7 linked regions of the Homo sapiens genome follow. The protein of the gene in region 6 purifies or fractionates together with the protein of the main gene of each other region. This does not show direct contact. Each region holds a gene or a part of one and is shown on either strand. Other genes may lie near its edges. The genes, in order: KANSL3, KDM6A, PHF20, ZNF609, YEATS2, RERE and ZNF608.

Region 1 (3,500 bases), on a different chromosome or scaffold from region 6:
ACCCCAGTGTCTCTTATGCTTTGCAGTTATATCTCTCCTTATAAATTAAGAAACTCAGCCAAGTGCAGTGGCTCACACCTATAATCCTAGCACTTTGGGAGGCAAAGGTGGGCAGACCACTTGAGCCAGGAGTTTGAGACCAGCCTAGGCAACATGGTGAAACCCAATCTCTACAAAAACTACAAAAATTAAGAAATGGTGACGTACTCCTGTAGTCCCAGCTACTTGGGAGGTTAAGGTTCCCACCCGGGAGAATCACCTGAGTCCTGGAGGTCAAGGCTTGTAGTGAGCTGAGATCGTGCCACTGCACTGCAGTCTGGGTGACAGAGTGAGACCCTGTCTCAAAAAAAAGAAAAAAGAAACAAACTGGTATTTATAGTATTATTAAGTCTCTAATGACTTTGATAAGTATGAATTGTCCACAAAAACCTCTTAATCATAACCATGGATAAACTGACAAAAAAAAAAAAAATCACACAGTTCTCCTATGTACTTTCTGAAATTGCAAAGGACAAGGTAGTAGAAAATACCACAAAGGGATACATAACCATACCAGGCCACCTTGTTCAGCCACCACTAACTGGTCTTAATCTCTTCTTACTGCCCTTAATTAAGGCAGAGGGTATGGTAGTTGAGAACACTGGGTTCTGGAGTCAGGCTGCTTGGTTTGAACAAAATCCTTCTCCATCACTTCCTAATTAAGGTTTCTTAAACACCCTGAGCTCAGTTTCTTCATCCTGTTGAGCAGAGATGAAGGGGGGATATACCTCCAAGAGTCATTGGGAGGATTAAGAGACAATGCATTTGAAGAGACATTGATACAATGTCTGGCACCTAGAAAGCACTCAACAAACGGTAGCTCCTTTTTGTTATTACCATCGTCGTTATTTTTTATTATTAACTGTAAAAATAGTGATAAATCCTTTTGCTGAATATACTGACTCTAGCAATATTCCAGTAGTTGATCTTCATTCGTAGCAGTTTTCTTCTTTATCTGAAGCTCAAAAGAGCTTTTTTTTCTTTTTTTGAGATGGTGTTTCACTCTTGGTGCCCAGACTGGAGTGCAATGGCACGATCTCGGCTCACCACAACCTCCGCCTCCCAGGTTCAAGTGATTCTCCTGCCTCAGCCTCCCGAGTAGCTGGGATTACAGGCATGCGCCACCACACCCAGCTAATTTTGTATTTTTAGCAGAGACAGAGTTTCTCCATGTTGGTCAGGCTGGTCTTGAACTCCCGACCTCAGGTGATCCACCCGCCTCAACCTCCCAAAGTACTGGGATTACAGGCGTGAGAAAAGAGCTTCTTAAGGCACTAAATTAATTCCAATGCAAGACCCCAACCAACTTCTTCACAAGCTTTTTCAACCAAGGTGCAGAACTGCTCCTCCCTCAACAGCTGCTGTTTTGATCACACAAGCACACCTGTTCAATCTCATTCCCAACTTCCAACCAGCTTCAGAAGTCATGTCAATCACCTCAAACTTTCTACCCCTCTTTCTCTCTATTATAAAATAAGGGTTCTCCAAAATTATGGAAAGTTACCACCTACCAACTCCTGATATAAGAAGTAACATTTCCTTATATATATAGTAGATATATGGATACACAGACAAAAAGCCATCAACAAAATATAAGTTGAAACCACAATGAGATGCCACTTTACACGCAGTAGAATGGTTATAATTTTTTTAAAAAAGAAGAAAATCAGTAAGTGTTGGCAAGGATATGGAGAAACTAGAACTCTCATACACTGCTGGTAGGAATGTAAAATGGTACAGCCACTTTGGAAAACAGTCTGGCAATTCCTCAAAGGTTAAATACAGAGTTATCATATGACCCAACAAGTCCACTCCCAGGTATATAACTAAGAGAATTAAAAACTTAGATCCACACAAAAACTTGTATGCAAATGTTCATAATAGCATTATTCACAATTGCCAAAAAATGAAAACAATCTAAATATCTATCAACTGATTAATGAATAAATAAAATGTGGGCTATCCATACAATGTAATGTCATTTGGCAATAAAAAGCATGAAGTGCTGATACACGCAACCACATGGATAAACCTTGAAAACATCATGCTGGGTGAAAGAAGCCAGTAGGAAAAGACCACATATTGCATGATTCCATTTATATGAAATGTCCAGAATAGGCAAATCTATAAAGACAAAAGTCAATTAGTGCTTCCTAGGGACCAGAGAAGCTGGGAGGAAACGGGAAGTAACTGTTTATGGGTAAGAGGTTTCTTTTTAGGATGATGAAAATGTTTATCAAATTGATAGTGGTGATGAATATACAACTCTGACTATACTAAAAACCAATGACTGTACATATTAAATAGCTGAATTGTATGGTATGTAAATAATATCCCCAAAAAGCTGTTATGTAATTAGGTAAATGTTTACCAAATGAACAGGGACAAATAACCAGGAGAGGAGTGCTGAGTCCCCTGGGGGCAGTAGAAAGCTTGGGAACAAAACTAGCCAGTATACTCGTGAAAATAGGCTTCAGTGTGCCCTCCATAGCCTGCAAATCTATTTTTAAAAGCCACTCAAACATCTGTTAGCTTTTCATGTGACTTCACAACTTCCATCATCCTAGTTATAAACCATTTAAACACAATATCTTACAAATGTACATTTCATTTTTTTGCAGTTTGGGTAACCCCTATATCATAACTTATACAACAGAAGCTACTACAGAGCTAGTCATATGTATCAAATTTAATTCACTTATTTATTCAACAAACATTATATGCCTACTGTGTGCCAGACAACGTCCTAGTGTGAAGTATGCAAAGATGGCTGAGATGTAAGCCCTACTCTCAAGGAGCTCACACACAGCATGGTGAACTGAGAGTTATAATGTGAGACTTTGGAGAACACTCTGACTTGTGTTGCTGCAAATGAAATAAGGTCCTAATAAGTGTTATTTCAATGAAGATGATACAAAATAATTACAGGGCAGTGATCATCCTCCTGATGAGCAGCCTACCTGTTGACATGCTCCTCCCAGTCCTCTGGTGGAGGAGGGGCATCTGCATCAGTCCTGGCAAAGATGACATGCCGTTCACACTCATTCATCACGCTGCGTGCCTTCTGATTGTCATAGAGTGGCATAGGCGTTGATGTGACCGTCTCCACATCTATTGGGACGTCTGATTCACTGTAAACAGGTGAGGAAATAGGACCGGGCCACACATACTTCACAGGTATTTAACAATCATCTGGTTGACAAAAAATGTATCTTTAATACAGTCAGCTTTAAATTACGCATAAGCACATTATATTCACAAGAAAATTTTGATCCAAAGTCATCTTTCCCACACTTGTCTAGATCTCTGCCCTCTCAGACATGATGGTATGTACTGGAAGAACACAAAGTCATTTTTTCAATGAGTCTATATAAAAAATGATAAACATCTATTTTTTTTTTAAGATAAATATGGGCCAGGTGCACTGGCTCACACCTGTAATACCACCACTTTGGGAAGCC
Region 2 (3,046 bases), on a different chromosome or scaffold from region 6:
TAGACTTGCATCAGGTCCTCCATTTTGTACTGTTCTAGCACCACAAAGTTTTCCAAGTTTCCGCTTGTTTTTCGTGCACAATCTTGGCAATGTACTATGTAGGTCTTTCGTGAATTACTCTCATTAGTGACAAAAAGCAGATCAAAAACCTCCACCTGTTTTATACAAGAGAAAAACGTATTCAATAGAGATAGTGGTATTTACTGTACTGCTTTAGTATAATCATGGAATTCTACTTGAATGAAATTGTGGACAGTGATCTCTGGTTAAGAGTAGGTGGTAAGAAAAACATGGCTGTGTTTGAGAATCTTTAACAGACCAGGTTTATTTTGCACCAAATCCAAAGACATGGGTAGTAATGCATATTTAGGGGAATAATCAAAGGGAATGACATACTCATGACAACCACTGGCAAAGCCCAGTTCAAAAGTTTGATAAAGGTCAACCTATTTTTAAATCTAAAACATTAGTATACAATCAGACATAAGTGATCATTTTTATGTATTCATGAGTACAGCATGATTTTAGAAATAATACCTCTATCTTATACAGAAAGATTGATGAGTTGCTAGGGTTCAGGTAGGATAAGGAACAACACACCTAACTGGAATCTATCTGATCTCCTAATGACTCACTTTGGTCAGGCCATATGACATTTAAAAAAAAAATCAATGGATTCTATCATTTCAAATAAAGGTTGATGCTAGAATTACAGAATTTCAAGGTTTGAAATGGACCATCAACATCCTGTCTTTGGCTTATCCTTAAATTTCTTCAATGACAGAAAACTCTTATGATCCCATGTCTTCTTTTAACAGTTAACTACAATCCTAGAGTTCACCATGTTATCCATTACTGTCAACAAGCAGCAATACAAACCTAGTGACCTGAGCTAGAAAATTGGTGAGCATTCTTCAACTTGTCCTTCCACTTCTGCCATTTAATGAGGTGTCTCGCTGATTTTACCCTCTAAATATTTTTGAATTCTTTCCCTTCTTTAATATTCCCATTGCCAGGTTCTAGTCTAGGCCTTAAAATAACTTTTTTTTTTTTACAGGTACTTTATTTATTTATTTATTTATTTATTTATTTATTATTATTATTATTTTTTTAAATTATACTTTAAGTTTTAGGGTACATGTGCACATTGTGCAGGTTAGTTACATATGTATACATGTGCCATGGTGGTGCGCTGCACCCACTAACTCATCATCTAGCATTAGGTATATCTCCCAGTGCTATCCCTCCCCCCTCCCCCCATCCCACAACAGTCCCCAGAGTGTGATGTTCCCCTTCCTGTGTCCATGTGATCTCACTGTTCAATTCCCACCTATGAGTGAGAATGTGCGGTGTTTGGTTTTTTGTTCTTGCGATAGTTTACTGAGAATGATGGTTTCCAATTTCATCCATGTCCCTACAAAGGACATGAACTCATCATTTTTTATGGCTGCATAGTATTCCATGGTGTATATGTGCCACATTTTCTTAATCCAGTCTATCATTGTTGGACATTTGGGTTGGTTCCAAGTCTTTGCTATTGTGAATAATGCTGCAATAAACATACGTGTGCATGTGTCTTTATAGCAGCATGATTTATAGTCATTTGGGTATATACCCAGTAATGGGATGGCTGGGTCAAATGGTATTTCTAGTTCTAGATCCCTGAGGAATCGCCACACTGACTTCCACAATGGTTGAACTAGTTTACAGTCCCATAACTCTTAAGACCACTGCAATAGCTTATATATCGCTGTCCTTTCCAACCACTTTTCTCCCTGAAACACATATCTTACTTACCCTTAGTTGCCTGCTCAAAACCTTTTAATGGCTTCAATAACCTTGGAATATCAAATTCCTTAAAACCATTCAAGATGTGCTATAAATTAAATGCCACCTAGACTTATGAGCGGAATTTGCACAGTCTGTGTTCCAGCCAAATCGGAACACATTCAACCTTTTCTAAAACCATTTCATTTCCCTGTTCTCTTCTTGTGCCTATAGCCCATGACAGTCTACCTCCGATTCTCATCACTTTTTTAGTCTACTTGATATCATACTCTTTTTTCCAAGGATGGACTCAAATGCTAATACGTTTGTGAGTTCTTATGCCAATACTAGAAGAAAAAATTAGGTCATTTTCCCCCTCAGTGTTATCATTAACAGGAAGTCCAACTTCACATTCATCATAGTCTCATGTACATTACAATTAGTTGTTTATAATCTGTCTGCTCCAAGTAGAATTTAAGCTCCTTCATAGGAGGCACCACATCTTTGTTCCTGCACCTCTTGCAAGCCTTGGCCACACAAGATTGACAAATGTATTGTTAATTGCACCAGAGAGGACTGATAATCGATCTGCCTAGAGTTACACCAAACATCCAGTTTATTGGCATCTGTGTACATCTAGATTGTTCTTAGTTTAAAATCTCAGACTAAATTTGCTGATTATTGTCTGTTGAAGATCTACCACAAAAATGACTCTGCAGTAGATACTTTTAAGGTTAATTCACAGTGAAATATCATTATTATCACACTGAATTTTAATATAATGGCTAAGCAACAAAATTGAATCCAATGTTAATTACTATAAACTGGATTACATAAAAGTATAAAAAAGTTTTTTAAAAATAAAGAGAAACCAACAGTGGAGAGGGAAGAGGCTTTATAAAACAACTGTGGATAAAAACAATTACTTACTTCACAAATGCTACAGTAATGAGCTGGTTCTTCTTTTGTCCGCCCATGCCATATAATCTCTTTTCCTGCAGCAATGAGAGCTTCCCTCAATGTCTGACATTGCTTCAGAGTTCTTAGAAGACAATACCTATTGTGGGGGAGAAATTATTTGTGACCAGCAACTGAATATTGAATATTTTTAGCATAAAAGATATACCAACTAGAAATAATGCCAAGAGACTTGATTCTAATGTCTATGACTTCATAATTTTTCTTTCATCAATTTATCAAATATTCTCAGATTTTAAAATGACAATGCTCAGCAGGCCTGATGAAGACAATATTAAAACATTTAAAGTTGAGAAAAGTA
Region 3 (3,500 bases), on a different chromosome or scaffold from region 6:
TCAGGAATTAATATGAAGCAAATCAGAGTTTATGATATACAAATAGACCTTTTCAAGACCCTATAGATTTTCATTTTTCTTGACAGGATGCTAAAACACCAGGCTCTCTGATTTTCAACATGGGAAAGCTTTTTATTTTTTATTTTATTTTATTTTATTTTATTTTATTTATTTTATTTTATTTTATTTTATTATTTTATTTATTTTATTTTTTGAGATGGAGTCTCGCTTTGTCGCCAGGCTGGAGTGCAGTGGCACGATCTCGGCTCACTGCGACCTCCGCCTCCCGGGTTCAAGCAATTCTCCTGCCTCAGCTTCCTGAGTAGCTGGGACTACAGACGGGCACCACCATGCCTGGCTAATTTTTGTATTTTTAGTGGAGATGGGGTTTCACCATGTTGGCCAGGATGGTCTTGATCTCTTGACCTTGTGATCTGCCCGCCTCGACCTCCCAAAGTGCTGGGATTATAGGCATGTGCCACCGCGCCCGGCTGGGAAAGCTTTTTAAAGAGTGAGTGGTAACACTCAGAAAGGTGCTTCCTTCCAAGACTTCTAGACTCTGGTAACAGTAGCCTCTGGCAATGTGTGGCTGTTTAACCAAAACTGAATAAAATTTAAAATTCAGTTCCTCAGTTGCATTAGCCATGTTTCCAGCGCTCAATAGCTGCATAAGGCTAGTGGCTACTGTATTGGATGACACAGACTTGGACCATTGATCATCGCAGAAAGTTCTTTTGGACTGTGCTGCTCTAAAGCATTTGTGTTTTGTCCTGGGAGTACCACTTTGTAGAGCAGGTGTTGACACAGTGCTGGCTGAAATGGCCCTTCCTCCCTTGCCCCATGGAGGCTGAAATGGCCCTTCCTCCCTTGCCCCATGTCTGATGGAATAAGGTGCTGAAATGCTTGCTGATGTTCTTGCAAATCAAGTGTTGGGAGTTCACTAGGTCTCATCTCTCTCTTCTGCCGACAGTGTTGGAGAGCTGGCTGGACTACACTGGGGAACTGGAGCCCCCTGAGCCGCTGGCCAGGCTTCCGCAGCTCAAGCATTGTATCAAGCAGCTGCTGATGGACCTGGGCAAGGTGCAGCAGATCGCCCTCTGCTGCTCAACATGAAACTGGGCACCCAAAACTCATGGGGGCACAATCCTGGGGCACCTGCAGGAGGAGCTTCGCATATTTAAATAAATAAACCTAGCATGCTGAATGCACGTGACACCGACTGACTTCAGGGATCTGGGCCAGGAGTGTGGTGGACATTGGACAAAGAGGCCATTTTGGCTGCGGGAGGACACTCTGATCTCGAAGCCTGCCATAAAGGTAGCAAATAGACTCTTGGGATTCCCCTCTTCTGTGCACATCGTTGAATGAAGAGAGTCTTTTTGCACAAACTTCACTTGAAATTGTGCCACTGATGATAAACGGAATGAGAGCCAAAAAAGTTTAGTTGGAGACAGTTGTAAATTCAATTTGGAGTTTATTTAATTGACTTTTCTATCACGTTGGGGCACATGCCAACTCCCTGGTTTCTTCCTGGCATGGTGTTTGGGCAGCAGGCATCATTTTCCTTTTCTAGCTTCATAGGAATATTGTGAGCTCACCATGCTGTGGAGGTTGGGAAAGAGCAGAGTCTTGGCTGCCCTGCTTTCTCCTTAGGACTCTTCACTTTTCTCACCACATCTCTTGCATGACTTCATGGTACTGGGGACAAGTTTGTATGCCTTCACCCCAGAGCTGGCTGGGTTATGGCTTTTGTAGCAGAGCCCATACAGCCTATGGAAGAACTAGAATCTCACTCACAGTAATAAGAATCTAGGAGGAATTCCAAACCGAAGCAGGCAGGGTCTGGAACCCAAAGGACAGCATTTTCTACCCACTTCTTAATATTGACAGCTTCCCCGTTCTATTTAATGTCCAAAAATGTTTCCCAAAATTTCAAACTCTTTCACTGTAAAGATTTGTTACAAAGAATGTGGTTTGGGGAATTACCTTATTTTATATTGTTGTAAACAAACTTCAAATTCTACATGTGCGACTTTTCTCCTTCCTGAAGGGTGTTTAGTAGTCAGCGTTTTCAGAATTGTTTTGTTACTATACTTTAACATTTTACATTTCCTGTTTGTATTATTTTGTGAGAGCAAGGTGATCATGCTGCTTAAGGTCCAGGTACAACCTATTTGTACCTTTTGAGACAATATTTGTGTTACTTTTGCAGGTTACGGTTCCACATGTAATTGCTATATTTTGTTTTGTTTTTCCTTACTAGGCAAAGTTAAAATGTTCCATGCTTTGAGGAGTGACCCATTTCACTACTTTGTTTTCTTATCACTAAAGGCAAAAATCAAAGCACAGTTGTCCATTAACACTTATAAGTTAATTATGGGTTTATGAGTCTGTAATGTTATATGCTGCAAACATTTACTATGTAAACGTGAAGTAGCCAATAATATCTCAATAGTAGTAACAGTATCTTTAGCGACCTTTGGAATAGTTAAGCACAGGTCATTGTGGACATGAATTCAGGCCTCTGTACTAAAATCTATTTCAGGGAATGTTCTGTCTAGTGATTTGCTCACCATTTGATATATAATGAATTATAGGACAAGTATAAGCTGATCTGCTATAGCTGTCCATCAGAGAGAATACACGTGGCTATAACATCTATAACAAAACGACGATTCCTCTACAAGAGGCTGTTTCTCACTGCTAACGTTGGTGTTTCTGGCGTGGGAAGAAATGCACAGGCGTGCATGGCATGCACGTTCAGACAGCTGCATTGTAAGAGTTCTGTCATGCAGTCTGAAAAGGGAAGAAACAGGATGGCTTTCTGTAGCCACACCTGTGAGGCGTGATGATTGTTGTATTATTAGATTACTGATTTTTCTTTTCTGAAAATACATTTGAGTTTTAATCACATCTGTGGAAGCTGTAACTTTTAAGGTAGTCAATTTCATGTCTTGTTCAACGATGTAAGCAGAAACTGAATTGCCCTAATTTTGCCAACTGGCCATTATTGGGATTATTGTTTAAATTTTTGGTAAAGGAAGTAATCTCCTTTCATTCATTGTGACTTTTGTTCTTAGGGAAGCAGAGAAGACTCCCCAAGTTCTTATAACCTCATTGTGCTTCCCTAATTTAAAGCCATGTTGAGGGGCTCCATTCCCAATTCCTGGGTCAAGGTGAATTAACCCTATGTTGGAGCACTGGAAACCGTTATTTGCAAACATTGCTGTTACCATTTAGAAATATGTGCACTATCAGCTGGGTGCAGTGGCTCACGTCTGTAATCCCAGCACTTTGGGAGGCCGAGGCAGGTGGATCACCTGAGGTCAGGAGTTCGAGACCAGCCTGGCCAACAGGGTGAAACCCCGTCTCTACTAAAAGTACAAAAATTAGCTGGGCGTGGTGGCGGACGCCTGTAATCTCAGCTACTTGGGAGGCTGAAGCAGGAGAGGTGCTGGAACCTGGGAGGCGGAGGTTGAAGTGAGCCGAGATTGCGCTAT
Region 4 (3,500 bases), on a different chromosome or scaffold from region 6:
ATAGAGACCAGAGTCCCTCTGTGTTGCCCAGGCTGGAATGCAATGATGCAGTCATAGCTCACTGCAATTTCCAACTCCTAGGCTCAAGCAGTCCTCCTGCCTCAGCCTCCCAATTAACCAGGACTACAGATGCATGCCACCACACCCAGATGATGTTTTAATTTTTTGTAGAGAGGGGTCTCACTATGTTGCCCAGGCTGGTCTTGAACTCCTGGCCTCAAGCAATCCTCGCGCCTCAGCCTCCCAAAGCACAGGGATTCATATTAATGTTTTTTAAAAAGCACTTTTATATCCATAGCAGGTGTTTTTTCCATTTGACAGGAAAGGCCCAGACAAGTTAGCTTAATTTGTCTGGGGTTACTTGAGACCTCACTAGCAGAGCCAGGATTAGAACCCAGGTATCTCGATTCCTTGTCCGTGTTTCCTCCACTGTTTGGTTCCTATGAAATGAGTTATTGATGGTCTCTCTATTTTTTAGAGTAGGTCCAAAGTATACTCAGTTACTGAGTTTCTTTAACAAGGATTTTATAGGTTGAGTTAGAACTAGGAACTTGGAATCTCATATCTTGCTCTGCTCATGAGACTTAGAATGTCTTCCCTTCCCTCTTGGTATAATAGTTATGCTTCCCTCCCTCCTCTGATCTGAGTGTCACTTATAAGCTTTCCAGTCCCTGAGCGTGCTCTGAAAAAGTGAAACAATCTAAACATATTGGAAGGGGCAGCCTCTCCTATTTCAGTCGTTTTCCCAGAATGCTTGTTCTTACCTAGAAAACATCCACTGATGCATGGATGGATTTTCCTTTTCTCCCCCTGCCCCATCTTGTTCCCTGTGGGTGGGTGCAGAGGTGGGGGCGGGGGCTTTTTAACCAAAAGGGAGCAGAGTTGGATTATAAACAAGATCAGTAGAGGCCAAAATCCTACTCTGCCCCAGGTGTCTAGTACTAATTATCTGCTCTGGTGGTTCTACTGGGACCTTGGGCTTGAAGTATATCTGTCTTATCTGTACAACACCCAGTCGTTGTTCTGTGATTGTTGTAGGAGGCAGAGCCCCGGATGTGGACATATGTTTATCCTGCCAAGTACTCAGACATCAAGTCAGAGGATGAGCGGTGGAAGGAGGAGCGGGACCGCAAATTGAAGGAGGAAAGGAGTCGGAGTAAGGACTCTGTCCCCAAGGAAGATGGGAAGGAAAGCACAAGTAGTGACTGCAAGCTGCCCACGTCAGAGGAGTCTCGCCTTGGGAGCAAGGAGCCCCGGCCAAGTGTCCATGTGCCTGTGTCCTCCCCACTTACCCAGCACCAGTCCTACATCCCCTACATGCACGGCTATTCCTACAGTCAGTCCTACGACCCCAACCACCCCAGCTACCGGAGCATGCCTGCTGTGATGATGCAGAACTACCCAGGTACAGCACCAAGTGCCAGCACTATTCCATTCACTGGAAGGGGGAATGAAGCACAGATTTCACATCCAGAGTTTTCTTGCTCAGCCCCAAGGCATATTGAGGCTCGCTTAGATGACGGACCTTTTTTCACTGAGTCATTCTGTGAGGTGGCCACCATAACCCATAGTTCCTTGAATGACCCATAATGATAGTCTGTGTGACTACCTCTCTCTCCCTTGCTCCAGCTCAAGGATTGTCTCTGTAGTCAGTTTTCATTGCTAACTAAAGGTAAAACTCCTTCTCTGTCACTGCTGTCTCCCCTCAGCTGGAATTTGTAAACCATATACTCCACGTTTTGCAGTGTGCTAGGCACTGTGGGAGGTACAAAAGAAGTAGAGCCATTGAGTTCCTTCCACTCCCGGAGCTTACAGCTTAATCATAGTGGAGAGACACAAAGAACAAATAAAATGCAAACCATAACAATGCATGGATTCAGTTGCCAGATCATGTTCACCTGTCAAGTAAGAAGAGCCATCTGAAGTCAGACTGGGGGGAGGTCCTGCTAGATTCAGCTTGGAAAAGACAAGCTCTTTATAGTGTTTAAATGTTTTTTGTTTGTTTGTTTTTTGAGACGGAATTTCACTCTTGTTGCACAGGCTAGAGTGCAGTGGCGTGATCTCGGCTCACCACAGCCTCCACCTCCTGGGTTCAAACGATTCTCCTGCCTCAGCTTCCCAAGTAGCTAGGATTACAGGCATGTGCCACCACTCCTGGCTAATTTTGTATTTTTAGTAGAGACGGTGTTCTTCCGTGTTGGTCAGGCTGGTCTTGAACTCCCGACCTCAGGTGATCCGGCTGCCTTGGCCTCCCAAAGTGCTGAGATACAGGCATGAGCCACCGCTCCGGCCTTAAATGTTTTTTAACTTGTTAGAAGAAAATGCTCTTATTTAACTCTACTCGTTTTGTTGCCCAAAGAACCATGTGGGGTGCTTCTGGGGTGGAAGGGCACTGCTTTAGCCTCACTCCTTAGAGCCTCCAGCTTCCTACAGCAGCCTAAATAGTCTCAACATTCTGGTGACATTATTATAAAGCACACTCTAAATAGAAATAAGCTTTTCAAACAGAAATAGGAAATTTCTTACCCTTGAGGTGTTCCTTTATCCCTGTCACTCACACCCATCAATATAAAAATCATAGTTGCATTTGTTGAGTGCTCGCCCTGAGCCAGGCGCTGTCCTCTGAGATTTATAGACATTATCTTTTTTAATCCTCCCTATCACCTTAAGTAATAAGTATTGATATCTTCATTTTTGATGATGAAGAAACTGAAGCTCAAAACAGTTATTTATTTGCTCAAGGTTACCAAGCTAGTAAGTCTCAGAGTAAGGTTTTGAGCCCAAGGCTCTGACTCCAGATAAGTGTGATCTTTCCACTTTATCATATCACTTCTCCAAGATGAATCTGAGACCAGTTCAAAGAACAGTATCAGATCTATGGAAGTTGGAAGCAGGAAACAGGGCCATGTTCCTAATATCCCTTAGCTAATTTTTCCTGTAGAGCTCAGTAAAGAAAGGTCAAGCCAACAGTCTCAGCCAAAGACACTATGTTAGAAAATACCTCAGCCTGTGCCTAGGAAAGCTGATGCCCACCCAATCAAGCTCACTAAAGCAGAGTTTCCTCTACCTCTCCCATCTCTTTGACTGTTTGATTTCTCCTTCCACAGGTTCCTACCTGCCTTCCAGCTACTCTTTTTCCCCATATGGCAGCAAGGTCTCAGGTGGTGAAGATGCTGACAAGGCACGAGCCAGCCCCAGTGTGACTTGTAAATCCAGCTCAGAGTCCAAAGCCCTGGACATCTTGCAGCAGCATGCCAGTCACTACAAGAGCAAGTCTCCCACGGTAAGAAAAGTACAGTGATGCTGGCTGTTACCCAAAGACTAGTAAGGCCAGATCCAGGGTCTGGGAGAAGGTGGGCAAGTTCAGGTCCTGACCACAGTGCAGCTTGGCTGACTTGACACTGGCAGCCCCCAGGGCATCTTCTTTATTCTTAGGTATCTTGCACTTTTAGGGGTCATAAGGTGGCACCCTGGGCATCTCACTTGTGTGTGTGTGTGTG
Region 5 (3,500 bases), on a different chromosome or scaffold from region 6:
GCCACTGCTGATCTGACAGGAGGCGGAGCTCAGGCAGTAATGCTTCTTCGTCCATGCTCAACTTCTGCTGTGCGGCCCAGGGGTTGGGGACCCCTGATCTAAATGAAGTCAAACAGACACACTCGATTCCAATCCTATGCCAACCTATCCCCAAAAACAGACTTCCAGCTTCTATAAGTAGATGGATCTTCCCTCAGGTATCACCAGATAATTTTCAGACACCACTTCATTCATGGTTCATGTAGACAGCTTTCTCCCAACAGCCTCACCAGCCATCTCTCTCCAGAGTGATTCATCTCTGATTGCAAACGCTGAGGAGCAAACCCACTTCTAGTTAAATTATCGTATGTGTTAAATCCATCTGAGCAAATGCTACCATTACACCACCCAACAGAGTTACAGAAATGCTTCCTGAAACAGGTAAGAACTGCCCTCAGATGGACAAGATGAACACACATAGAGAACCAAGAACCAAATGATTCAACCCAATGGTTTCACTAACTAGCATTGTTCGTAGCTCGCAGGATGGCTCCTTGAGGGATCAGCAGCAGTTTTCCTTTTCCTGAAGGGTTCTTGCTGTTTGTAGTTAGGTAGAGTTTAGTGCCAGGAGGCAAATTTGCCAAGTTGGCCAAATTAGTGGCTGGTAGCTGCAACGTTGCCATTACTAAAATGGTAAAGGAGAAAAAATTGTAAGATAAATTGAAACTAAGGGCAACACTCTAAAATTAAAATACAAGGCAATAAATTCTTATTTTAGAACACTAACAAGCAATAAATTCAAAGTTTGTTTCCCAGATGCACAATGCTTTAAAGACTGATATTCTTAAATATCTTGCTAATTAAAAAATAATTTATAGACCAGAAGAGCCTGCCAGAGGCTCTTTATATCTGTATATAATAGGATGATCGTACGTCCTGGTTCTGCCCAGAACAGTTCTAGGTTACACCTGTCCCACTATAATTATTAATAATGACTCTTTTTACTCTCCAAAGTACTGTGGTTTGGACGATTAATGAAATAATCACCCTGTCTATGGAGGATTACATATTTTCCCCCATTTGTTTAAAGTCAAAGTTAGGGCAAATGTGTGCTCCTAACTGGCAAGTACCATTGGCCCTCTGTATCTGTGGATTTCACATCCATGGATGTAACCTACCTCAGATAAAAAATATCCATATATTTGGCAGACAAAAGGATGAGTACATCTGTACTGAACATGTACAGACTTTTTTCTTGTCATTATTCCTTAAACAACACAGTGTAACAACTATTTACATAGCATATACATTGTTATTACATTGTTATTTACATTGTTATTAGGTATTAAGATAACCTAGAGATGATATAAAGTAAAGTACATCAGAGGATGTACATAGGTTATACGTAAACAGTACAGCATTTTACACAGGGGACTGTGGATTAGCATCTGTGGATTTTGCTATCTGCAGCAGGGGGTCCTGGAACCAATCCCCCACAGTACTGAGAAATGATTTGTTCGTGTGTGTGTGTGTATGTGGGTGTGTGTGTGTGTGTGTGTAAATTTAAAGCTAAATACTCACAGACCTTTATGTAAAATGTCCCATAAAAAAGAACAAACATTTCAATACACTTCTTACAGCATCAACCTAACTAGGCTTTCCTAGACCAGATCAAATAGCAAATAAAATCACTAGCAAAGGAAATTTTGGACAGAGCTTCTGCTGAAAGGGCTCCCAGTGATGATCCGTTTTACCTGAACCCTGGGATCCACTCTTCTGAGGACCAGCGGCAGTAACCTGGGCCTTGGTTAAGGTCTGCACTGGCTGAGCAACAATGGTTCCTCCACCTCCACTCACAATTGCTTTGGCAACTCCTTGGGTTACAACTTGCTTTGGCCCAACTGCTTTGGAGACAGAAGAGCTGGCCTTGGCTACCAGGATCTGGCCACCACTGATCGCCACAGCCTGCTTCACTGTTGAAGGTAAAGCAGACCCAACTGGTACCCCGACAACCTGTTCAAAACAGAGCAGAGTCCAACGGTGCTTCGAGAGCTCTTAGAACAGCAGTCACCGTTTTGGCAGAGAGCAAAACAAAGGCCTGCACATAATACATGCAGCCTAATTCAGTCATCTAGGAAAGCTACCTACACAGGTGTGAACGGCAACTGTATTTCTTACACTTGGGTATTACAATAATAGAAGCTTAACAATTGTTGTCTTGCCTCAGCTACTTTTTATAATTTACTTTAATAGAAAATTTGGGAAATTCAGAAGTATAAAGAAAAAAGTTTGGCCGGGCGTGGTGGCTCATGCCTGTAATCCCAGCACTTTGGGAGGCCAAGGCAGGAGGAGCATTTGTGGTCAGGAGTTCGAGACCAGCCTGGCCAACATGGTGAAATCCAATCTCTACTAAAAATACAAAAATTAGCTGGGCATGGTGGCACACACCTGTAGTCCCAGCTACTCTGGAGGCTGAGGTAGGAGAATCCCCTGAACCTAGGATGTGGAGGTTGCAGTGAGCCAAGATCATGCCACTGCACTCCAGCCTGGGTGACAGAGTGAGACTCTGTCTAAAAAAAAAAAAAAAAAAAAAAAAAAATTAGCCAGTACAGTGGCACACATCTGTAGTCCCAGCTATTCAGGAGGCTGAGGCAGGGGAGGATCCCTTGAGCCTAGGAGTTCAAGGCTGCACTGAGCCGTGATCACACCACTGCCCTCCAGCCTGGGTGACAGAGCAAGACCCTAAGAAAAGAAAAAAAAAAAAAAAAAAAAAAGGCAAGAATAATATTTAACTATTAAAAAAAAAAAAGACCCCAGTACCCAAATAATGAAAATTAGAAGTATCTAGTTCCAAAAGTAAAATGAATTCTTTTAAGAAAATACTCAGGAGTGTTTTTAAAACAAAGTCAACAGTAGGATGTTAAATTAAACACTGAATGAATGGCAAACTGGAGCAGTGTTTCCCACTCCCAGCACCTTATTTCATAAAAAGAACTTCTCACCAGAAACTAGATGAACAGACTTCCACAAGGTTGGAAGAAATGCAAATGATCTACCTTCTTAAGGCAAAAAAGACAAAATAGGAAGTGCTGTTCACCCATCAGATTGGGGGAAAAAGAGTTTAAAACCAAGAAGTTACTAGAGGCTGTGGGGAAAATAGGAATTTGTGCTCACTGTTGGTAGGAAGATAAATTTGGACAGCCATTCCAGAGAGGCACTGGCCCATCTGCTAAAACTGAAAATTCACATACCCCCGTATAGTAGGAATTGTTTTTAGGAATATATCCTAGAGAAACATACATGCGTTCAAGGGAACATATACAACAATGCCCAACATAGCATTATTTTTACCAAAAACTGTTAGCAACCTTAATGTCTGCAGCATGCAACAACATTCTTAACGTCTACAGATAGAGGAATGGACAAACTGTGGCATAAAACAGACAACGAAAGGTCATACTAAAAATAAATGAACTAGAATTATATATATTAGTGATATATTAGTGTAAACAGACTGGAAA
Region 6 (3,500 bases):
AAAATACAACAAAAATTAGCTGGGTGTGGTGGCGGGCGCCTGTAGTCCCGGCTACTCAGGAGTCTGAGGCAGGAGAATGGCGTGAACCCAGGAGACGGAGCTTGTAGTGAGCCGAGATTGTGCCACTGCACTTCAGCCTGGGCGACAGAGCGAGAGACTCCGTCTCAAAAAAAAAAAAAAAAGAAGAAGAAAAGAAAAAAAAGTCTCAGGATATCGCATAGAGCACTATATTCTAAAGATATTTTCTGGCTACTTCTACAAACTCCCAGAACTTCCTTCAAGAATAAAAATAATATTTAACTCAAACGAAAGTGAGAGCTTCAGAGCAAGATTTTTCCACCTTCAGTTACATTTTACACATCTTTTCATCCTACCATTTTCAGTTATGTTCCAAGGAAAATGATCTCTCTAAAGATGTATTACTGGCCAGGCGTGGTGGCTCACACCTGTAATCACAGCACTTTGGGAGGCCAAGGCAGGGGGATCACGTGAGGTCAGAAGTTCGAGACCAGCCTGGCCAACGTGGTGAAACTCTGTCTCTACTAAACACACAAAAAGTAGCTGGGCACAGTGGCACACGCCTATAGTCCCAGCTACTTGGGAGGCTGAGGCAGGAGAATCGCTTGAACCTAGGAGGCAGAGGTTACAGTGAGCCGAGATCACACCACTGCACTCCAGTCTGGGCAAAAGACTCCATCTCAATAAAGAAAAGAAAATGTATTGTCTCTGCCTTAACAAAACATAACAGCTTCCAGAAACAAGCTTCCATCTTTCGGGAATATTAAGTGGTTTTTACAGTCTTCCAGATTTCTACTATAAATGGTATCCCTAATAAAGTACTCCCCAAAAAGAAACCCAACAAGAAAAGTCTTGAGGTTTTTAAGCGTCTGCAATGGGAAAAGTGAATCCCAAACTCCAAGCTAACACAGTTCTTACAGATATTTTATAGCAGGAAAAAATTTTGTCTTTCTAAGTCAGTTTTGGAATAGACCTAACAATAAATTTATAAATAAATAATTTATCTTTTGTTTTTCTTATGATCTTCCCCAATACCCTATCTCACTTATTCAACAAATCTTTACTAAATACTATGTGCCAAGTGTTAGAACTAAAACCACAATGGAGGAGAAAACTCATGGTCCTTGTTCTCAATGCTCAAATGCAACAAAAGGAGGCAACCGATCAATCTAAGAAGCTTCTGTTTCTCATGCAACTAGGGTGAGAAAGGAAACAGTGCATATAAACAAACAAAAGATTGGTCCTCTTTACTTGACAACCACAAACAAATCAGTTTGCAGTTACATGCTTCAGATGCAGAGAAAATTCTCTTTGGTCAGCCAGGCATGGTGGCTCATACCTGTAATCCCAGCACTTTGGGAGGCCGAGGTGGGCAGATCACGAGGTCAGGAGGTCGAGACCATCCTGGCTAACACGGTGAAACCCCATCTCTACTAAAAATACAAAAAATTAGCCGAGCGTGGTGGTGGACACCTGTAGTCCCAGCTACTCGGGAGGCTGAGTTAGGAGAACCGCTTGAACCCAGGTGGCAGAGGTTGCAGTGAGCTGAGATCGTGCCACTGCACTCCAGCCTGGGCAACGAGAGAGACTCCATCTCAAAAAAAAAAAAGAAAGAAAGAAAGAAAGAAAAAAGAAAATTCTCTTTGGTCATGCTAAAACCATAACAATTACCATATATTCTCTGCAGCGCTCTTAGGTCAAACCTCTTACCAGAAAAGACCTCCTCATAAGCATCTCAAATATCCTTAGACATTCAGCAAAATAGAAAGTATTTAGTCTTTGGAAGATAGGTGATGAAGGAGCAATCATGCATCATAAGCTACATTAGAAGAAGGAACGCATGTAGCACAAAACTAGATTACTTCCTTCTATGTAAGAAACATGCTGTTTCAAACAGGATTTCCATTTTCTAAACATATTTCAAGAAAAGGAAAAATTATCACTGCCTACAAAAGTTTTGCCCAGATGAACCGTCTGCTAAACAGATAGTCATAAACTCCCAAGTCCTGGTAGGCTACTAGTGCTAGCAACTGAAAATACAGAGACCTACTACTTCCTCGACAAGTCTTAAGTTTAGAGCATGAACGAGCCAATCATGAAAGAAAGAAAACTATCAGGCCAGGGGCGGTGGCTCATGCCTGTCATCCCAGCACTTTGGGAGGCTGAAGCGGGCGGATCACCTGAGGTCAGGCGTTCGAAGCCATCCTGGCCAAGATGGCGAAACCCTGTCTCTACTAAAAATACAAAAATTAGCTGGGTGCAGTGATGGGTGCCTGTAATCCCACCTACTCGGGAGGCTGAGGCAGGAGAATCGTATGAACCCAGGAAGCGGAGGTTGCAATGAGCCAAGATTGTGCCATGGCACTCCAGCCTGGGAGACAAAGCGAGACTCCGTCTCAAAATAAAAAACAAACAAAAAACGATCAGCTAACACCATTGTTAAAATGTTCCTCTTTGACCCTGAAAACTCATCAGTGTCTACTAGGAGTCCAAAAAGAATGAAAAGCTTGGGCTGAAAACCTCTCCACTGCAACTGCAGTTTCAGACAGAAACACTTCTGATAACTTTAAGAAAAAAAATCATTCTCCCTGGGGTTAACAAGATAACTGCTCCAGAAAACTGTGTAGAAAACATTTTTTCAGCACTCAAAGAGAAAAAATAGTAAGTCCAAATTGTACATTCAACACTACTCACTACAAAATCATACACTGTTTCTATTTACAAAGAAAATAGAGTTGTTTCTGCCAAAAGTGAGCAAGAAAGTTAAAAATTCAAGAAACAATAAAGATGTCTATAAAACAAAATCCAGTATATGTGTATATTTATAAAATCAATGTTCTGATTTATCTGAAAGTTGGCTCTATTTATATATTACATAATCTGCATGTTATATTAATATATTAAATTATATGAATAATTAATACCATATCATTTATATATTAATGACATATTTATATAACCAACTTTCAGATAAGTATGAACATTAATAATCTAAGCAAAAGTCAATCCAATTACCATTTACATTTGGCTCTAAAATACAGCTCAATGGGAATATATTTTTTTCCTCTATGTTTAGCATATGAATTATAATTCTTCTGCGCCTTAGTGTACAGTGATCAACACATACCAATGATGTGACAGATAAAGAAAGGGACCCAGAGAGGAACCAGATGGCACTGAGAAGGAGAGTTGTCACTTCAATTTGCTAGAAATGATCTACAAAGTAGACGATACAACAACAGCATCTTTATTATAGCACCATGAGGTTTACAGAGCAAGTCCCTCATTTGATTCTTCCAACTCATGAAGTGAACTGGACAGAAGTTGTCATCCTCGCTTTACAGTCTACAGAACTCAGAAGAGATCATCTGCACAAGGCCACGCAGCCAATGGGCACGAAGTAGGATTCCAGTGCAGCTGTCTCAGAGCTCAACCCTATCTGGCTTGCACAGGAACTCCTGCTGCCTGTGCTGCCAGGATCT
Region 7 (3,500 bases), on a different chromosome or scaffold from region 6:
TACCAGAAACTCTATAGAGAAACCAGAAAAGGGGATTTCTGAATCTTTTTCTGAGTCCTCCTTCTTAGTACAAGGATTTCTTTTAAGTGAGAAGTATAACTTTAGTTAAAGGGTGGTTAGGCTGTAAAGGTAGAAAGTCATAGGAAATGAACCATCCTTACCCCAAACTATGGTTTGGGAGGATGGGGCCTTCTCTTTGAGAGTTCAAAAATTGAGAGATTCAAAATGTGGGTGTAGGACAGTGATTTCTTGTGCTTTATATTGGCATATAACTTTAGAGCATGTTTTTTCAGTAGAACAAAATGTATACAGACACGTTTAAAACTGTGAGATATGTTCTCTCCACAAAATACAAGTGTAATTAGAAAACTTGACCTTAAAGATATCTCCAAAACTACTTATTTTGTAAAAGTTGTTTATGGGAAGCAATTGGGTAAATTCTTAACCTGCAATTATGAATGAATATAGAGAGAAATCCTCTTATTTCCGTCATTTCAGGAAAACATTGGTGTCACTTGGTTTACTTTGGGTGGAGTAGTTCTTTTGTGTTGGCTTAATTCCAACTGAAACTAATGCATGTTTTTTGAAATTCTCTTTAGTTACTAAAGAATTGTATCTTTATATTTACTTTTTAATCATTAACACAATATTGTCGAAGGGACAAAGGTGGTTTAGTACTCTTAAAAGTTGATTTTCAGAGCATGAAGGGGGAAAATTTCTCTTTTCTGTTGCAGCCTGTGGAAAAGGCTACAGCTGAGCGGGAACGGGAGGCAGAAAGGGAAAGGGATCGCCACTCCCCCTTCGGCCAGCGGCACCTGCACACGCACCACCACACCCACGTTGGCATGGGTTACCCGCTAATCCCGGGTCAATATGACCCTTTTCAAGGTCAGCAGCTCTATCATTACTGTGTCTTTGTCCATTCTGCTTTGGAAAACAGTTGCTAAAATTGCATTTCACATCTTAAAAATATTGAGCTTTGAGTTCACATTAGCTCTCAGGAGGGTTTTTAACACTTATTTTCTAGTGACACAGCTAAGGCTATTCCCACATCTTTGTATTCTATTGAGACATGAAATGGCTACCACTTAATAATTGTCACCAGTTGATGTTATCGGCAGCTTACTGTTATCTCACAGACTGAGGGCGGTGGCCAGTGTCTGGGGCACTGAATATAACAATCAGAAGATCAGATATCTACTTCAGGAAAATTGTAGAAAAAGGGAGGGATGGTGGGAAGCTTTGGTGAAATTACTTGTTCTGATTTCTGCATGCCTTTTAAGTTGCTCTTTTCCCATGGAAATCATGGGAGTAATGTGATCAGGTTTAACACTTTTATAACCTCATTCGAGGGTTCTTCACAGCCCTTCACTGCTGCGACTTCACTAAATGGGAGAATTGAGAAAGAGAAACATGTTTTAAGCCATAGGATTGATATGAGGGAATCTTCACCTTGTAGTTCATTAGTTGAGCATGTATTATTTGTCCCATCTTTGTCATCTCATAGTAGGTGGGTGGTGGCACCATCTTTACAACTTGCTAGAATACCACAGATTGCATGGCTTTAAACAACAGGAATTTATTTTCTCACAGTTCTGGAGGCTGGAAGTTCAAGATCAGGGTGCCAGTACAGCCAGCGTCTGCTCAGGCCTCTCTTCCTGGCTTGTGTGCAGCTGCTGTCTTGCTGTGCGCTCATATGACCTCTTCTTTGTGCATGAGCTGGTGGGTGGGGAAGGGGCAGGGGGGAGCCCTCGTGTGCTTTCTTATAAGGACACTAATCATGCCCTATTAGGGTCCCACCCATATGACCTGATTTAACCTTAATTACCTCCTTATAAGCCCCATCTCCAAATCTAATCACATTGTGGATTAGAGCTTCAACATATTTTGAGGAGACATAATTTAGTCTATTGCACTTGCCAAGTTGCCTCTTATGCTACTGTGTGAATAGAAAGTAAGATAATATGTTTGAAGGTGTTTCCAAAACTGGGAAGTGATATACAAATGTGAAGGGGTCATTTTTATTTATTCAGGTCTTTTTAGTTGATGTCATCTAGTAGTGTTAAAAGAGAGCTTTCCTATTTCTTAAACAATTTGTATTGAGTGTAATAAGAACTTGGAAGAGAAAGAGGTTTTATTTCTAGTCTAACACATTATATCTATATATAAATAAAGTATATATGAGAAGAAAACAATTGTCTCTTTTAAGATAATATTATTGTTATTGTACTGTCTTAAGTTACCTCTGGGAAAAGAAAATATATCCAAATAAAAGACCTAGAAGGAGACAGTAATCTTCCCTAGGTTTGCATTTGTTTACTCTATTTTTCCCCAGGACTGTCTTCTATAGAATTTAAAAGAATTCTCTGTTAGGCAACATCATGCCATTTGGAGCTATTACAGTCTCTGACTGCTACCTTTGTCTTGCAGGGTGAAAGTTAAGAGCATTTCTAAGTTTGATTTACTGATTCTGTGTATCTTATGGGATGCATTGTGTTCAGTCACTGGGGAAAATGTTAAAGTGATAACAATTATTATGAAAGTATTGTATTCTAGGCAAATAGCATGCCGCTTCTGTAATTCACTGTGACTTTTGATTCCTGTTGTTACCTGGTATCTGTTATTTCTCCTGAGCTTCCTATTCAGGGAATGCATGCAAACCATTTAGCACCATGCAGAGCCGGAGAGATGGAATGCTGTATCTCCTTCGAATAGCTATTAAGAAAACTGCAGAGTATTCAAGAAAGGATAGATAGCAGATAGACCAAATGGTTTGTACTGTGTCCTTGCTGCATGAAACAGTTCATGTGTGTGTTTAGGAGAGGACACCATGCTGCTACTAGGTCTGCGGCCCTTCTCCACTGGGCCTGTATCTACTCTTATCCTTCTAAAGATCACAGACACTCTACATTTTTTCCCCATTAGGCTTGACCTCTGCTGCCCTTGTTGCCTCTCAGCAGGTGGCTGCCCAGGCATCTGCATCTGGAATGTTTCCTGGACAAAGAAGGTAAATATCCTCTACATTTTTAATTAGTTGTAGATAGAAATATCTTAATGGTTGGGAGGAAGCAAGTACAGGATTTTTAGACCAAAAACTTAACTCCTTGGGTTTTATATCATTGTAATGAATGTGTTTATTATGCCAATATAAGTTGCTTCACATGCAACTTAAATTCCATGAACCTCATTCTGTAAGGGTTACATAGATTAGTAATTAACTGATTAGTTTTTTAGACAGTTGAAATTTTCTTGGGTTATCCTTACGGCATTTCTAAAATAATTCACCATGACTCCCTTTGTTTTATTATGTTTAAAGATAAAGTCGCAAATGGAGACATTTATTTTCATAATGCTAAAGGTAATGTTTGTTCTTTGATATTTTAAATTATTCCCTAAGTTTTATGAAGGAAAATGATTTAAAGGAATTAAATTATTAATATTATAAAATTAATATTTTTCACAATGTATATCATTACTTTATGTTTATTCACTTTCTCTGG

What was found.
Region 1: the proteins of RERE (region 6) and KANSL3 purify together in Homo sapiens (affinity purification with mass spectrometry, with the first as the bait; one large-scale study listed by BioGRID). This does not show direct contact.
Region 2: the proteins of RERE (region 6) and KDM6A purify together in Homo sapiens (affinity purification with mass spectrometry, with the first as the bait; one large-scale study listed by BioGRID). This does not show direct contact.
Region 3: the proteins of RERE (region 6) and PHF20 purify together in Homo sapiens (affinity purification with mass spectrometry, with the first as the bait; one large-scale study listed by BioGRID). This does not show direct contact.
Region 4: the proteins of RERE (region 6) and ZNF609 purify together in Homo sapiens (affinity purification with mass spectrometry, with the first as the bait; one large-scale study listed by BioGRID). This does not show direct contact.
Region 5: the proteins of RERE (region 6) and YEATS2 purify together in Homo sapiens (affinity purification with mass spectrometry, with the first as the bait; one large-scale study listed by BioGRID). This does not show direct contact.
Region 7: the proteins of RERE (region 6) and ZNF608 purify together in Homo sapiens (affinity purification with mass spectrometry, with the first as the bait; one large-scale study listed by BioGRID). This does not show direct contact.

The regions. Positions count from the first base shown.
Region 1 is NC_000002.12:96,628,313-96,631,812, forward strand, and holds part of KANSL3 (KAT8 regulatory NSL complex subunit 3), read right to left. Parts: intron 3,232-3,500; exon of another isoform or gene 3,171-3,231; coding exon 3,000-3,170; intron 1-2,999. UniProt on the Homo sapiens protein: Non-catalytic component of the NSL histone acetyltransferase complex, a multiprotein complex that mediates histone H4 acetylation at 'Lys-5'- and 'Lys-8' (H4K5ac and H4K8ac) at transcription start sites and promotes transcription initiation.
Region 2 is NC_000023.11:45,107,188-45,110,233, reverse strand, and holds part of KDM6A (lysine-specific demethylase 6A), read right to left. Parts: intron 2,825-3,046; coding exon 2,698-2,824; intron 156-2,697; coding exon 1-155. UniProt on the Homo sapiens protein: Histone demethylase that specifically demethylates 'Lys-27' of histone H3, thereby playing a central role in histone code. Demethylates trimethylated and dimethylated but not monomethylated H3 'Lys-27'.
Region 3 is NC_000020.11:35,946,515-35,950,014, forward strand, and holds part of PHF20 (PHD finger protein 20), read left to right. Parts: intron 1-970; coding exon 971-1,113; 3' UTR 1,114-3,500. UniProt on the Homo sapiens protein: Methyllysine-binding protein, component of the MOF histone acetyltransferase protein complex.
Region 4 is NC_000015.10:64,677,078-64,680,577, forward strand, and holds part of ZNF609 (zinc finger protein 609), read left to right. Parts: intron 1-1,038; coding exon 1,039-1,405; intron 1,406-3,107; coding exon 3,108-3,283; intron 3,284-3,500. UniProt on the Homo sapiens protein: Transcription factor, which activates RAG1, and possibly RAG2, transcription. Through the regulation of RAG1/2 expression, may regulate thymocyte maturation.
Region 5 is NC_000003.12:183,770,797-183,774,296, reverse strand, and holds part of YEATS2 (YEATS domain-containing protein 2), read right to left. Parts: intron 1,993-3,500; coding exon 1,734-1,992; intron 665-1,733; coding exon 503-664; intron 1-502. UniProt on the Homo sapiens protein: Chromatin reader component of the ATAC complex, a complex with histone acetyltransferase activity on histones H3 and H4. YEATS2 specifically recognizes and binds histone H3 crotonylated at 'Lys-27' (H3K27cr).
Region 6 is NC_000001.11:8,657,141-8,660,640, forward strand, and holds part of RERE (arginine-glutamic acid dipeptide repeats protein), read right to left. Parts: intron 1-3,500. UniProt on the Homo sapiens protein: Plays a role as a transcriptional repressor during development. May play a role in the control of cell survival. Overexpression of RERE recruits BAX to the nucleus particularly to POD and triggers caspase-3 activation, leading to cell death.
Region 7 is NC_000005.10:124,638,640-124,642,139, reverse strand, and holds part of ZNF608 (zinc finger protein 608), read left to right. Parts: intron 1-734; coding exon 735-888; intron 889-2,925; coding exon 2,926-3,007; exon of another isoform or gene 3,008-3,012; intron 3,013-3,316; coding exon of another isoform or gene 3,317-3,320; exon of another isoform or gene 3,321-3,358; intron 3,359-3,500. UniProt on the Homo sapiens protein: Transcription factor, which represses ZNF609 transcription.